Homo sapiens: one gene and its partner. The protein of the gene in region 2 purifies or fractionates together with the protein of the main gene of each other region. This does not show direct contact. Each region holds a gene or a part of one and is shown on either strand. Other genes may lie near its edges.

Region 1 (7,244 bases), on a different chromosome or scaffold from region 2:
CTATCTTGGAGTTGTGTCATTTGTTAAGTTATAGCTTCCCTCCCCCTACCCACAACATGTCCCAGTCCCTAAACTCAAACTCTTTCACTGTGATCAACAAAAGCATTTATTTGTATTGGTGTTTTGAATGAAAATGGGGGAAAAAACCAATTAGGGCCAAACAGATAATGGTTTTAACATAAAATACGGATAATGTCTTTTCTATACTCTAAAGGAGAATGAAAAAATATGCCCAAAGAATAAGAAGACTGACAGAATCTTAGCACGTTTTTGAGCTCCTTTGTGAAGCTCTATTTTCTTAAACACAATTCAAGTACATGCTGTTACCATTTTTAGATCTACCTGACACAACAGCAAGGAAATTGTTTCTTTAAAAAAAAAAAAAAAAGCTCCAAGATCTCTAATTTTCAATTAGGCTGCACTAAGTAAACAAGGTTGTTTAATGAATAATAAAAACCTTCAAGATGGACTGACTTGAATGGCTTGAAAACTCCGAAGATTCATCTTTAATATCATCTTGTCGTCTTTGGACAAGGCGGGAAGCTCGCTGTTTGTACAGCTGATGTATTGCTGATTCAAGTTCATTAATCAGTGGCACCTGTAAAAATACAACACACTCCGTAACACCAAACTCCTCAGCTGCTTATTTATTTGAGGGTTCCATACTATTTCCGGATTTCTGAAAAAGTACCCTCTCTATGGACAGAATAATCATGAATCCCCAACAGCACACAAGTAGCAAATTCTGTTTTATGTTTGGGAAACGACACTTCTTCTTTTAATCCATGCATAGAGCTATAATGTCCAGTGCCTAGTTATTGGAGCAAACATTAGTTAAGAAATGTAACACTTCAGTATTCATAGAACAAGTAAAGAAATGTCAACAATTTTAGAGCTTTTCCCTTAGAGAATATTTAAGTACTTAGAAGTCTTTTTAATATCTATTTTTAATTTTCCAGCAGCATTATCTGCATTGCGATTTTTGTAGTTCAAAGTAAAACATTATCACTGTGTGGTACCAAAAAAGTGCAATGGCTCTATAAGTAGGTAAGAACAAGAGTCTGCTAATTCTCCAATTTTGGACATTTCAGTTGCTCTGCCACTCATATGTACCAAGTACGTTACAGTAATCTGTTTACTATTTTGTAGCTTTATTACAGATTTTTTAATGTAAACAAAATAATTACTAGGGCGAATAAAATTTCCAGCTATCACTAACCTCTCTGAACTCAATATATCTCAAATTTAAAAAGTTGTTCTCTTCCTGTCAAATGTTTAAATTCTCCCATATTTTATAAAAATTTCTTTACATGAATTGTGAACTTACAAAGTCAATAATTTTTCCAGGTTAATATCCCTAAAGCATTTACTTGATTCATATAGAATACAAAAGAACATGAGAGCTAACTTAAAACAGAAAACTTTCTTTTTCTAAATACCTTATGTTATAATCAAATGCTATGAGACTTTCACGTAACACTAATGACCACTACACATACCTGAGGAAACCAGAAATTCTAGTTTCCTGATGGTTAGTGCAAATGGAAAACACATTATTTAGAGTTTGGGAACACTGGCACCAAGTGTTATAGCAGCTTCCTGAACTGAACAGACTGCAAATGGAAAATAAAAAAAGGCAGGTGGAATACAGAGATGTCTGTAATAAAAGCAATTTTATATACTTGCATGATTCCATTGCAAAAGTAGCAAATGTTCACAGAAAGGTCAAACTAATGGAGTTATTTTGTTCTTTAATATGCCACACCATGGGCAACAATGTCCCCAAATCTGTAATGATTATCCTTGATAGCTGAGTCCAGAGACTCTATCATTAAAATTTATTATAATCTGATTTTTTTTTAGCAATTACTGCCACAACATTGCCATTTACACTTCCCCATGCCCTCATTTTTTTTTTTAAACCATGAAGTACTAAAGATAAATGAGCCTGAGGCATTCTTTTATCTTTTAATCCTAGAGATTGTTAAGCTTCCTGTACTGTAGGAACTACCCACCTAAGCTGGCATCATACAGAATATAATTTTGCAACATATAGTTAAGATTCTGACAATGTAGTTTTTCTCTTTAGGTTAACTGGAATGCCTTTTACCGGAGGTCCAGAGAAAAACTCTACTGAGAATAAAAGCCCTAAACAGACTGTGAGCTCTCATTCAAGTTTCTTAACAATATTGATTTATCTCAAGAGTCTGCACCGTGACAATTTCTTTATCCTCTCCAAACTCAAAACTCTCACCAATTATTACTATTTTAGGGCCAAAGTTAAGGCAAAGAACCCAAGAAAGATAATTACAGGGAAACAAAAACAATGGCAAGTTAAAATGATTTACAAATATTTAAAACTTCTTTAAAAACCACCTAAACTTTCATAAGCAAAGAGGAAAAAAAAAGGGATCTTTATCTTTTTACGGTTAACTCTGAAATATTATTATAGTATAATTATTCAAAGTATCCAATTATTTCTAAGTATCTCCAATATAACAATTTATATTATCAACTCAGCAGTACTTTTTTGTTTTTTCTTTATTTTTAAGATTATCTTCTAAAGATCTAAGCTGAGCAGTACTCTTAAAATGAAATACACATGAAAATGTTAGAATGAAATATAATACTCATCTTTAAATGAAGCTATGTCTACCTCTCTTTTAATTAAAACGTAGTCACTGTATAAGGTTTAAGATTTGTTCCAAAAAATCTAAGTGACTCTGTATAACCACATTAGCATAATCTGAAGTAAACTTCTCTAGGAACAAGGTAATCGAGATGAAATACACTAATAATTCAACAATTAAAAACTATAAACTAGGTTGTCCTACTTTTGGTATGATCTAGCTGATCATATTACTGTCAAATTTTTTAGAGTTGTGTTTGCAATTATGAATGTCTTAATTTACTCAAGAAAGTTCCGAAGCAAGCGCCAAGACACTTCAAGAAGCAGCTCTCCAGGGACAAACTCATAAAGCATAGTTTAAGAAAAAGATCCTTTCTCTAGTCACAAAGGTTATGAGACCAGCTCCCACCATGCCCACTGGGCTCAGAAGAGTTTTGCCAGTAGGAAGGACATGACTGTCAACTCTTGACACTTAGGTTCCACTTCCAATCTTGACTCCAGCTCCCGGCACAGAGGAATACAGACAAGCCTATACTTCTTCCCCACCCTAAGCAACTGATACACCACAAGTGGTATCATAACTCAGACTGCAGCTGCTTCTCCAGAAACCAGGTGATAAAGACAAAACATGAGAAACCCTACAGAGAGGACATGGTGAATGTTATCTCATCCTGAATCTGGCCACAGACTGACTGGAACCATTAAGACCCATCAGGAAGAAAGATCCATCAGGAAGACATAGTCTGGCAATGATCTTTTCCCAGCCATTGGTTTTAGGGTATTCAAGTAATCAACAAAGATAACAAAAGTTGAAATACATATTTAACCACACTATATGCTTACAGATTCTAAGCTAATCTACATAGCCAATAACAAAGGGAAATGTGCCTTCCAATCCAAAGTTCAGACAGGATATTTAAGGACCACAGTTTTAATTTTTTTTTTTTTAAAGATAAGGCTGCAAAGTCCACAAATGCTTATAAACCAGTGCCTCAACCAATACTTTTATCTTAAAGAAAAAAAATCAATTAGGAGGTCATTTGAGAAACTAGCTGTTTGCACCTAATTTTAAATGTAAACAATAAATAGTATAAGAATGCCAAACATTTTGTCAACTGACTATCCTATTGAAAAAAACAAACTTGGGAGAAATGAAACCTTAGAAAAAATGATATCCAATGAAATGGTTTCTGAAAGAAATCAAGCATAGGCTTACTTAGATAAAAACTATTAGCAACAATGGTAATCATCATCCAGGGTAAAAAAAAAAAAAAAAAAAAAACTAATAAAAATTTGCAACTTTATATGCATATTTAGAATTGCTTGTAGAAACGTTTAAAAATAAGTTTAAACCTGAACCAGAAAAGAAAATTTTATCAGATGAGTCCCTTATATTCTAAGAATTCAGCACAGGCCAATAATAATCTACCACCATATTGAAATAAGACTTTCCAAAGTCTTATTTAAATGTGCTTTAAGATATTATCTTTATTTCTGTTTTCAACAAAGGTATTATATTGCCCTTAAGAGATAATGCCACTAATGAAGTGAAGAAAAATGAAGCATGACTTTTCATCACTTCTAATGTTGAGTTCAGTGGGTACTTTCTGAGAATTATAGAATGTTCTACACAAGGCCATCTAGACCTCCCTAATTTTGCCTTATTCAAAGAGATTAGTATTTTTGCATTCTTACCTTTTCACTGAAACACTCAAGCAAGTCTTGGACATACCCTCGCATTTCTTGCAAAAATTTATACCGTTCACCAATACCCCCAGAAGACCCTTCTAATCTTTCAATAGCCCTGGTAGAGTCCACTCGGCTTTGCAGATGTTTCTCATGCTGCTGTCGATTTGTTTTGTGCAATTCTTTCATGGAGTCCAACCTTAGGAACACAAAAGGATAAATATAACACATTTACATCCAAAGGTCTATGGTGTCAGGACTCTTGCAATATTAAAATATGCATTTAGCTCCACTATTAGAACATAAAAATATTTGGAATGGCATCTTTTCCTCTGTACTGCTTTTTTTCTCAAAAAACAAAAAATGGCAGTTTACAGATTTCACAGTTTTGTGGGCTAACCAAAATCTCACTGTTTTGCTTTTCCCCCCATAGCGTGACTACACTTTTTCAGAGTCCAAGAGGTACAAACTCAGAAATGTCTTCAACAAGATCATGGAGTGGCATTTTTTATAATTTTTCGAGGCTTCCACAGAAGTAATCCAAGAAGGTAGCAGAACAAAGTATGAAGTCATCTTCTGTTTAGCTTTTGAAGCTGGGCCAGTGAATCTTCTTTGCTGATATTCTGCATCTGCTACCCCAGACTACATGTTGCCTGAGGGAACAGAAAGCTAGCGGACAGGTCTTTAAGAAGTTGATCTGCCCTACCTGTCTTTAAGCTGTTTCTTTACCAAATCAATAGTAACGGGAGTCATCTCATTACTGGGAGTTTTGAAAGGGACTGTATTATCTGTTTTTTGAGATTTGGCATCTGATGATCCATAGGCCGTATAACTATAAGGAATGCCATAGGATGAGCCGTAAGGCATTGTCTGGTAAGTGTTCTGGTAGTACATATTCACTTCTGCGGGTTGACTGGCTTGAACCTAGAAAAGAAATGGGATATAGATGAAATCTGGTAGTTAAAACTTTGAAAATAATAATATGCCTTTAGGGTTAAAAAATCAACAGCAAAAATTATACCTATTTGCCAAATATTATGTAATAATTGCAGAATTCTTCAAAATTAGATAAAAGCAGGATTGAATGAATGTCCTATCTCTTGGTGGAATCACTAAATTTATTTCTAATAATTTTCAGAAAAACAGAGTTCAGAGTTGGAAGAAACATCAAAAATCATTTAAGGCCACCTTTGATCAATGAAAGAGGATAAATGCCTTGCCCATGGTCACAGAATCAATGGGCAACCAGAGATTAGAATCTAAGACTCCTGACATCCAGTCCAAGACTTTCTCTATTGTGCCATTTTCTTAACTTCACCCAAATGTATGCGAATTCTGCCTCAAAACACTATTAACAAAAATAGGTTTACGTTTATGCAATTTTTCTCACTGTATTACTTACTTTTATAAAACAAATTGTTATAACTGGGAAGATATTTTTCATCGATCTCAAGTTTTTTGTATTATTGAGAAATCCATCTTCTTCAAAATAATTCTTAAAGTCCAAAAAAATAAGCTACACGCACAAAAACATTCCATTTAAAGCAATGGTTCTCAAACTTTAGTGTGCATCAGAATCACCTGGAGGGCTTGTTCAACAAAGATTGCTGGCCCCACCACCCCAAGCTTCTGACTCTGTAGGTCTCTGGGGGCTGATAATTTGGTAATTTGCGTTTCTAATGAGCTACCGGGTAATGCTAATGCTAACTGAAGGACCACTTTGAGAAAAACTCATCTAAGAAATTGGAAATTCCTCCATCATTCTGACTGCAAAAAGCCGAACACACTGCAGTTTCTTCTAAAAGCCTACGTGTCTCTGTGTGCGTGCGTGCGTGTGTGTGTGTGTGTGTGTGTGTGTGTGTGTCTCCTCATGGGATTTTGTTACTTGAAATGAATGACAAAGATTCAATACGGAATTTTTTACTTTAACAAAATAAAAAAGGCTTTTTAATCTACTTTTAATTTTTAGTTTAATTCTTTTGTCGTACCTGAGGGATATTAATTCCTTTCCTTATCTGCTCCTGTTCCCATCGGCTGAGCTCTTCATCCTGTTCTCCAGTTACTAAAGCATCATCATCACTCCCCTCAATTCCTACAGCCATGAGCAACAAAGAAAAGTAAGTAACACCCAAAGAGCAAAGAGGTAAAAGATGCTGTCCTGACATTTCACAAGAACTGAGCAAAACTATTAACTCAATCTTACTAAAATGTCTAATATGATCTCCTCTCTCATTTGGTAGTCCTGACTTTGCCTGTTTTAAACACAGTATTCCTTGAAGCTAAAGGCAGTATTAATGTAATAGTTAAAATCTTGGATGTGTTTCTTAATCTCTGTAAACTTGACATCAACAAAGGGAACAAAATCTAATGCCTCCTAGGAATATAGAACTATATGAATTTACGCATGTAAACTGCTAAGCACAATACCAGCTGCACAATAAATGTTCAATGAACATGAGTTATCACAATGATATTAGTTTTTAAAAATTCCAATAAAACACTTGTACCCAAGAATAGTCCTCTAACATAAAATTTAGTAAGTCTAAATACTTTTTACTTGACTATAATATCAAATCACATTTAATAGCATTAGAGGCCATGCATGGTGGCTCATGCCTGTAATCTCAGCACTTTGGGAGGCTGAGGCATGGTGGCCCATGCCTGTAATCCCAGCACTTTGGGAGGCTGAGGCATGGTGGCTCATGCCTGTAATCCCAGCACTTCGGGAGGCCAAGGCAGGAGGATCTCTTGAAGCCAAGAGTTAAGACACCAGACACAGTGAGACCCCATAACTACAAAAAAATTAAAAATAAAAAAATTAGCCAGGTGTGGTGACGCACACCTGTAGTCCCAGCTACTCGAGAGGCTGAGACAAGGGTGACTGTTTGAGTCCACGAGTCAAGACACTGCAGTGAGCTATGATTGTACC
Region 2 (8,115 bases):
AGCAACTGTCGGTTGGAAGTCACTTCATTGTCTCACCCAGGCCCGAGACCACAATTTCCCTGGAAGGACACAGCCCATGGCAAAGACATGCTTCGAGAAGGGATGAGTTGGACAATGCCAGTAAGAAGCCAGGCTGTCCAGAAAAGCTGGTGCCCAAGTTGCTACAAAGTGGTGCCTGCCCTTGCCAAGGAGGCTGTCTCTTAGTCGCCTTGGGTGTCCTACAAGTTTCCTCCGAAAATGCCAAGAGGAAACCTCCACTTTCTGGGGTGAAACGAGGAACACGAAGAGACCCATGGAGGTCGAGGCAGGGGCAGCGTTGAGCTTTGGTGAGTTATTGCTTTCTTTCAATTTGTCTTGATGCCTTCGAGAGGCTGGAGGTCATTTGGACTCACCTATGAGGAATCTCCGCTCCCTGCCCGAAGCCCCACCTCTGTGCTATGCGAGTGACTGCAAGCAGGAAGCTGGCCCAGGAAGGCAGGCGTGAGGGGGCCCAGCTCCTGCGGGTGCTCCCTGGAGTGATGTCTGAGGTGACGGCCATCCAAGCTGGTGATCTTCATGGTGTGTGCTCAAGGTGTGGGTGACGGGCGTGTGTGTGTGGAGGGCAGCCCCCCTTCTGTGGATTTGCCTCTGCCATCTTTTTGAGTTATTTTCTAATGGTTTGTAGCTTAGAAAGTAGCCATGTTTTCAAGTAGTGCCGGCACAAGAGCTGCCTGTGCACGAGGGACTTTTCTGCTGGAGCCAATCTGGGAGAGGAGGAATAAAAACGAGCACATCTCAGGTCTCGACGCATCTGTTAGCTGTGTACTCACAAAGCTGTGGCGATATGACTGCTGCTCAATTAAGATTTCTGGTGAAATGTTTAAGCTTTTTCTCCAAGAGCTTCCAGCATCAAGTACAAAAGGATGATCCTGAAGGAAAGATGAAGCTGGTTTTAACGGCGTCTGTGAGCTGCTTTCCCTGCACACGAACAGAAGCTCTTACCTTACAAACAGAAAGGGAAAAAGGACCTTAAAAAACCATACACAGACTCTAGCAAAAGCCAAATTCATGTACATTTCACTCCGTCTAAAATGCAGTCCCGGAAACGCTCCACGGTCCTCTCCTGCCTCTGCACGCAGGCAGGCAGCCTGGGGGGCTCCTGGGTGCTGCCAGGAGCCGTGTCCCATCTCCCCAGAGGGACCGGCCATGGCCCTGGTCACTGTGGCATCTTCCCAGAGCAACTGCGTCTCGCTGCCCAGGGAGGTGATTCCATTTGTGATCAGTGAGAGGGAGAGGGAATAAAGTGCTTCTCGTAAAAATGACCAAAATAAATACACACATTTAACGGCAGAAAAGAAAGTCTTGAAAGGGTTATTTCCAAAGAGTTTGTCTCCTCCGACCCGCGCTCCTTGGACTTTTGGAAAGACAGGATTTCCCCACACCAGTTGAGAGGCTCAGCTTGGCTGAGGCAGCTTTCCCACCCCTGGCTGCGTGTTCGGTCCCTGGTCTGTAAACCTGTGCCCAAGCTGCCCCAGACCCTGGAGCCCCGGGTTCCGCAGGCCGGGCTACATGGCCTTCATGCCGTTGGCCGTGGCACCCTCGGGCAGTGTGTCACCCGCGGCTGCGGCATCGTGGAGGCCCGAGTAGTCCTTGAGCTCGGCGTTGGTGAGCAGCAGTGGCTGCTCCCCCTTCTTGTGCGGCAGCAGCGGCTGGCGCGTGTAGTGCTCCCCGTTAGAAATGTTCTCAGGCAGGTTCTGGTCCCTGCTCTCGGGCAGCAGGAGGATGCAGATGATGCAGATGAGCGTGCAGCAGGCAAAGATGATGTGGTGCAGGAAGTAGCCTTTCTGGTTGTGCAGCTCGATGATGGGTGCCGTCAGCATGCCGAAGCCCGCGCTGGCCAGCACCAGCCCCAGCCCGCCACACCTGCAGGGGGAGGGAAGCACAGGGATTGCTGCTGTGGGCTAGCGGGCTGGATCCCGGGAAAGCTCGGGGTGGACCAGGAAGCCACCTCTGCAGGGGCCCTGCTGCCCTGGGCACTGCCCAGTATACCCCGACCTCACACGTCCCATGTCACCAGCACCCTGGCTGTGTCTGTACAAGGCCACTCTACGGCAGTGACTGTTTTTCCTCATCAAATCAAAAGCTTTTACTTAATTTATCTTTTTCTTTAATGTTTCCTATTTTTATTGTTTTTTCAGGGCTGGGGACCATGAGAACTTTATTTTGAAAGGCAGCCTTATATAATACTACTGTAAATGGGAAGCTGATATTACTTGCCATAAGTAGTATACAAGGAAAAACAAAAGGGATTGAAATTATGCCATTTCCTGAAGGCCTGGGGGATTACCAAGGGTTAAAGAGGGTACTAAGGACATACCAACACGAACAGAGACTTTCTCTTTGTCATAACTGGAGAGACTGCAAGATACTTTAAAAGAGTAGTTTCCTCACTGTGAGTTGATGGCCCACGTGTCTCCTGAAATTGCTCACATACCACCATTGGAAACGGTCCCATCTCTGAGGATTGTGCCTGAAGGGTCCCCCAAATGAAGCTGTGCACTGACAGAGAGGAACTCACTGCAGCTCTGAGCTCAGGATAACCAAAGTCCAGAAGGCAAGCCATTGATTTCCACTCCCTGCCTTGTACGGGAGCAGCCAAGAGTCCCAGGGATTAGTAGATACGCAAAACTTACAGAACCCCTATCCCTCAAACCTCTCCACTTTGACCTAAAAACACATTACTGGGACAAAGGTGTTCTGTGGCCCCTGAGAAAGCAGTGCTGTACCAGGCTGCAGTGGGACCGTGGCGCTCAGGTGTCAGGCCAGGCTAGAGAGGGCTGCCTGGTCCCCAGTTCTGGGGCCTCATTGAAGGAGGTAGGCAGAGGTGGCCTTGTCTCAAGGAAGAGGGAGTGGAGTTGTGTGCCTCGCTCCACAGCAGCAGGTAGACTGGTCCTTTGGTTTGGGGAAGCTTTCTAATGGGCTGCTCGTTAGGCACCCCCTTGAAGTGAAGAGGGCTGTATCCTTTGAACTGCTGAGGCTGAGTGGGCTGAAAGGGAGGTCCCTGCAACAGGTAGGAGGCAGGTAGATAACTCCAGCTCTTGACTAGTCTGTGGTTCTCTTGGTTGGCACTATAGGTAGCTCCTAACTCACCAAAAGACTGTCCTACAAGGTCACAAGATAAAAGATCAACATACAAAAGTCAATTATATGTCTACGTGCTAGCAACACCCAAAAATGAAAATGCCATTCACAATAACATCCAATGAATAAAATGTTTAGAAATAAATAACAAAGGAATGCAAGACTTGTATGCTGAAAAAGATAAAACATTGCTGAAAATTAAAAGATAAAAATAAATGGAGTGACATTCCATGTTCATGAATTAGAAGACTAAATATTATAAAGATGGTAATTTTTCCCAAATTGATCTATACATTCCACATAATCCCTATCAAAATTCCAGGTGACTTTTTTTTTTTTTCAGAAAACAGCCAATTCTAAAATTTATATGGAAATGCAAAAGACTCAGAGTAGTCAAAAACAATTTTGGAAAAGAACAAAGAAGGCTTGCCTTCCCAGTTTCAAAACTATAAAGCCATACGGCTTAAGGCAGTGTGGTGTTGGTGTATATATCAATAGATCAATGGAACAGAACTGGGAGTTCAGAAACTAACCTTCACATTTATGGTCAACTGACTGTAGATGGAGGCAAATCCAGTGAGGGGGAAGGGATAGTTTTTTCAACAGGTGGTGCTGGGACAACAGGATATTCATGTGCAAAAGAATGATGTTGGACCCTTCACATCATGTAAAAAAATGAACTCAAAATGGATAATAAAATCTAAGTGCTTAACTTAGCTCAAACTATAACGCTTCTAGAAGAAAACAAGAGAAAAGCTTTATGACGTTGGGTTAGGCAAAGATTTCTTACACATAACATCAAAAGTAGGATCCATAAAAGAAAAAGCTGATCAATTGGACTTCATTAGGATTAAAAACTCCTACCCTTCAAAAGATACATGTTTAAGAAAAAAAGACCATAGACTGGGAGAAAATATTCGTGAAGCATATATCAGATAAAGGACTTGTAACTAGAATATATAAAGAACTTTTTTTTGAGAGTCTCACTGTCGCACAGGCTGGAGTGTAGTGGCATGATCTCGGCTCACTGCAAGCTCTGCCTCCCAGGTTCATGTCATTCTCCTGCCTCAGCCTCCTGAGTAGCTGGGACTATAGGCGCGTGCCACCATGCCCAGCTAATTTTTTGTATTTTTAGTAGAGTCGGGGTTTCGCTGTGTTAGCCAGGGTGGTCTTGATCTCCTAACCTCGTGATCCACCCGCCTTGGCCTCCCAAAGTGTTGGGATTACAGGCGTGAGCCACCACGCCACTCTTATAACTCAAAAAGAAGACAGATAATCCAGTAAAAAGATGGGCAGGCCAGACACAGTGGCTCATGCCCAAAGAGGCTTGGGCAAAGGTGACCTGGGCAGGGAGGATGGGAGTCCCAGGGTTCCCAGGTGGCCCTCATAAACCAGATATACACAGGTCTATGCTAATAACCCCAGGAAGATTCACAGATTTGGAGCCTTTTTCTCAGAATGCAATGGAAGAATGGTGATTGTGTGTGTGTGTGTGTGTTGGGGGCTTTTGTCCTGTAACAAAATAAGAGAAGACACTTTGCTCTGCCTTTTCTCCCTCTAATGTAGAAATGACTGCCTCTCTGTTGGTTGCAGTCCACCCATCTGCATCCACCATGGGCACAGGGCTTGGGGGCACAAGGGCAGCCTTGCCAGGCTTGCAGCCCTAGGGGACAAAGACTCGCTGGATTCTTCCCTTTCCCAGCTCCTTCCTGTCCAGCCCATGACCAAGTCCTCAGGGCCTCCACTCCAGGCCGCCTGGGTCTGCGCTCCTCCCTGGCGCATCTTCTGCACCCCCTAGACTTTGTTTCCTCACCATTGCCAAACCGATTTTCCTAGAACACAGAGCTAATCATATCACCTGGCTGCTCAGAGTCCTCCAATGGCTCCCTCCTGCCTGCAAGGTGATGCACAGGTCCTGGGGGCCCCACCTCTTCCTCCTGTCCTCTGCCTTTCAGTCCCAATACTCATGGCACCGGGGTCCCTCAGCTCTGTCTGGTGCTCGCTCTGTGAGGTTGGCCTATGCTGGCTCAGCCGAGCTCCCACAGGCTACCTGGGTAGGGCGCCGTCTGTGCATTTCTCGAGGAAGGAGATGCCTTCTGGTACAGGGTCTTCGTTAATGTTTATTCCATTAGATGATTGTCAAGACTGGGGCATCAGCCATTAGCCTCCAAGCCTTGAGTAAACCCACATAAAAAGAGCCAGCCCAAAGTGAGCTACAGAACAGACTTTTGCTGCCACAAAGGTGCGAGTGCCGTGGCTGGGAGCAGGAGTTCTGGAGCCCATGAGCCTGGGCTAGAATCCTGGCCCCCGCCCACCAGCTTCACTTCCCGAAGCCTCGGTCTGCATCTATAAAACAGGGATGAGAAAAGCTCCAATGTCCAAGTGCAGTGGAGGTTAAAGCACGAATGTGACTAGCATGGGGACAGGAAGATCCGTGGCTTGATTGGTTCCAGGTGGCATCCATTGAGTGCCGGGAAGGGGCCACCCAAGTCTTTCAGGGTCTAGGGGGCAGCTGGGTGTAGGAGGAACCAGAGCTGGAGAGGTTCAAGAACTGGGAGGCGAACAGGATGAGCCTCTCCCATGGGCCTAAAGCCTCCAGGCATGACATGGAGTCCTAAAAGTTGGCAGAGGGGGCTGTGCCACTGGGACCCTTCTCCTCCACCCTGGCCTTCCTCTCGGTGAGGCACCAAGCTCTGCAAACACTGCCTCCTCAAGCTGCTTCACACCCGCCCACCCTCACCCTTCCAGGAACCTCTGCTCCTGCTCCCCGAGCCCTAGGAATCCAGCCTCACCTCCTCCCGCCGCAGTGCACTTGCCAAACACGCATCGCCTCTAGAGCCACTATGTGCGGGCTCCAGGCCACATCCTGGGAATCCCGTCCCAGCCACCCTTCTGAGTCCAGACTGAGCAGGCTCTCTTGGGCACTTCCCCTGCATCCTCAGGACACTTGTGTAGCCCGAAGACACATTCGCATTGCGTGTCTGTGTGTCTCTAATAGACACCAGATGTTTCCAGGGCAGGACCAGGCTCCACTCCGTGTGCTGTCCCCAGCACCTGCCCAGCCACTGAGACCTGGCTGGCACCTGGGCATCTACTCAGTGCTATAGTCGGATTTCTAGACTGGCCCCAGTAATTCCCACCCTTGTGCCTTGAGTGTGCGCTGGCCCTCAAGGTACAAGGTACAAATAACGTACTTTTTAGCAATCAAATTTACGGCCAGGATAGTGAGATGTTCCTTCCACAACAAGGTTCCAAAAGGCAGATTCTAGCAGACTCTTGCTAGCTTTGACGAAGCGAGCTGCCTTGTGACTGTGGTCCCTATGGCCAACGGCCAGCAAGGAGCTGAGGCTGCCAGCCCCACAGCCCGTGAGGAAACAGCCTACCAGTGCCTGACTTGGTTTAGTGGTGGGCCCTACCCACTGATGGTAGCCTCTGAGAGACCTGGAGCAGAGGACCCAGCCAGGCCGTGCCCAGACTCTGGAGCCATGGAAACCATAAGATAGTAGATGCATGCTACTTCAGGCCCCTGTTTTGGAGCGATTGGTTATGCAGCAATAGAAAACCAAGATACTCGGTGAGTGACAGATTCCCCTGCCTTAGCCACGGAGGGAGACTGACAGCCACCTCTCATGCAGGCTGTGACAGGCATCAGCACTTCATATTAGAAAGCCCTTCCCAGGGAGAGGCTGAAAGAGTTGCAGGAATAGCCACACCACTGTGCTTCTGGGCCTGAAGACGATATGGATGAGGAAGAGCAAGAATTTGGGGGATGTCTCCCAGATACTCAAACTCCTCCCAGGCTGAGGGTCCCAGACCACCGTTCAAAGACACTCTGCATCTTTCTGTCACTATTTGTTCATGTGCCTGTCACCTTACTAGTCTCTGAGCCCTTCAAGGGCAAGAATTATTTTCTAGGACATCAACAGGCACGTGCTGTTTGTGCTTAATAAATACCGGATGCTTGCGGATCACACGGGCTTCCTGGATAGGAAGGTCAGCTCACCCAGGTGAATGGGACAGGTTAAATAGAGACAACCACGGAAATGAGCAATAAGACCAAATCCTTCTGTAAGATGAAGACTGAACACCTAAAATAGCCAATTAAGTCTTTCTGGTAGACCTGGCTCTTTCAGGAAGCCACAGGGCATATCAGATGCTAGGGATAATGGACATGATTTTAATGGGGACAGCATTTTCTCGGAAACCTCCCAGGTTTCTGCCTGACCTTCCCGGCACTAAATGTGGACGGCACTGACAAGCAGTGAGAGGACTCCCCTTACTCACACGGGAGTCACATACAGGAGGGCAGAGTACAGACCCCCAGGAGGGGTGGGCAGAGGGCCACTGTTAAAGGGCAAACTGCATGGAACAAAAGCCTTGCATTGTGCCTGGTGAACCACATCATACTGATCTATCTTGTTAACTGTGCCAAATAAAATGAAATATATTTAATTTGCAGATCATTAGAAAAATGTCTATGTATATGTATATACATAATATGCAACAAATGTACACATGCATATATAATATGGAATATATCTTTTTATTTTTTTCTGTGGGAGCAATTCTCTGGTTTTCTATCAAAGATTCCTTGATATGGCCGGGCATGGTGGCTCATGTGCCTGTAATCCCAGCAATTTGGGAGGCCGAGATGGGCAGATCACGAGGTCAGGAGATCGAGACCACTGTGGCCAACATGGTGAAACCCCGTCTCTACTAAAAATACAAAAATTAGTTGGGTGTGGTGGCGCGTGCACGTAATCCCAGCTGCTTGGGAGGCTGAGGCAGGAGAATCACTTGAACCAGGGAGTTGGAGGTTGCAGTGAGCCGAGATCACGCGACTGCACTCCAGCCTGGCAACAGAGCAAGGCTCCGTCTCAAAAAAAAAAAAAAAAAAAAAAAAAAATCCTTGACATCATTCAGTACGATTAGGAAAAATTTTGGCAGAAGTTGGTATGCCATTTTTGGCTTTGTTTTTTTTTCTCTCTTGAAATC

The links. Proteins that work in one complex are often made in the same cells at the same time.
Region 1: the proteins of SLC22A23 (region 2) and PAXBP1 purify together in Homo sapiens (affinity purification with mass spectrometry; 2 studies listed by BioGRID and IntAct, with this or other methods). This does not show direct contact.

What each region holds. Positions count from the first base shown.
Region 1 is NC_000021.9:32,754,756-32,761,999, forward strand, and holds part of PAXBP1 (PAX3- and PAX7-binding protein 1), read right to left. Parts: intron 6,408-7,244; coding exon 6,304-6,407; intron 5,240-6,303; coding exon 5,022-5,239; intron 4,515-5,021; coding exon 4,325-4,514; intron 3,934-4,324; exon of another isoform or gene 599-3,933; coding exon 475-598; exon of another isoform or gene 1-474. UniProt on the Homo sapiens protein: Adapter protein linking the transcription factors PAX3 and PAX7 to the histone methylation machinery and involved in myogenesis.
Region 2 is NC_000006.12:3,271,511-3,279,625, forward strand, and holds part of SLC22A23 (solute carrier family 22 member 23), read right to left. Parts: intron 1,903-8,115; coding exon 1,545-1,902; 3' UTR 1-1,544.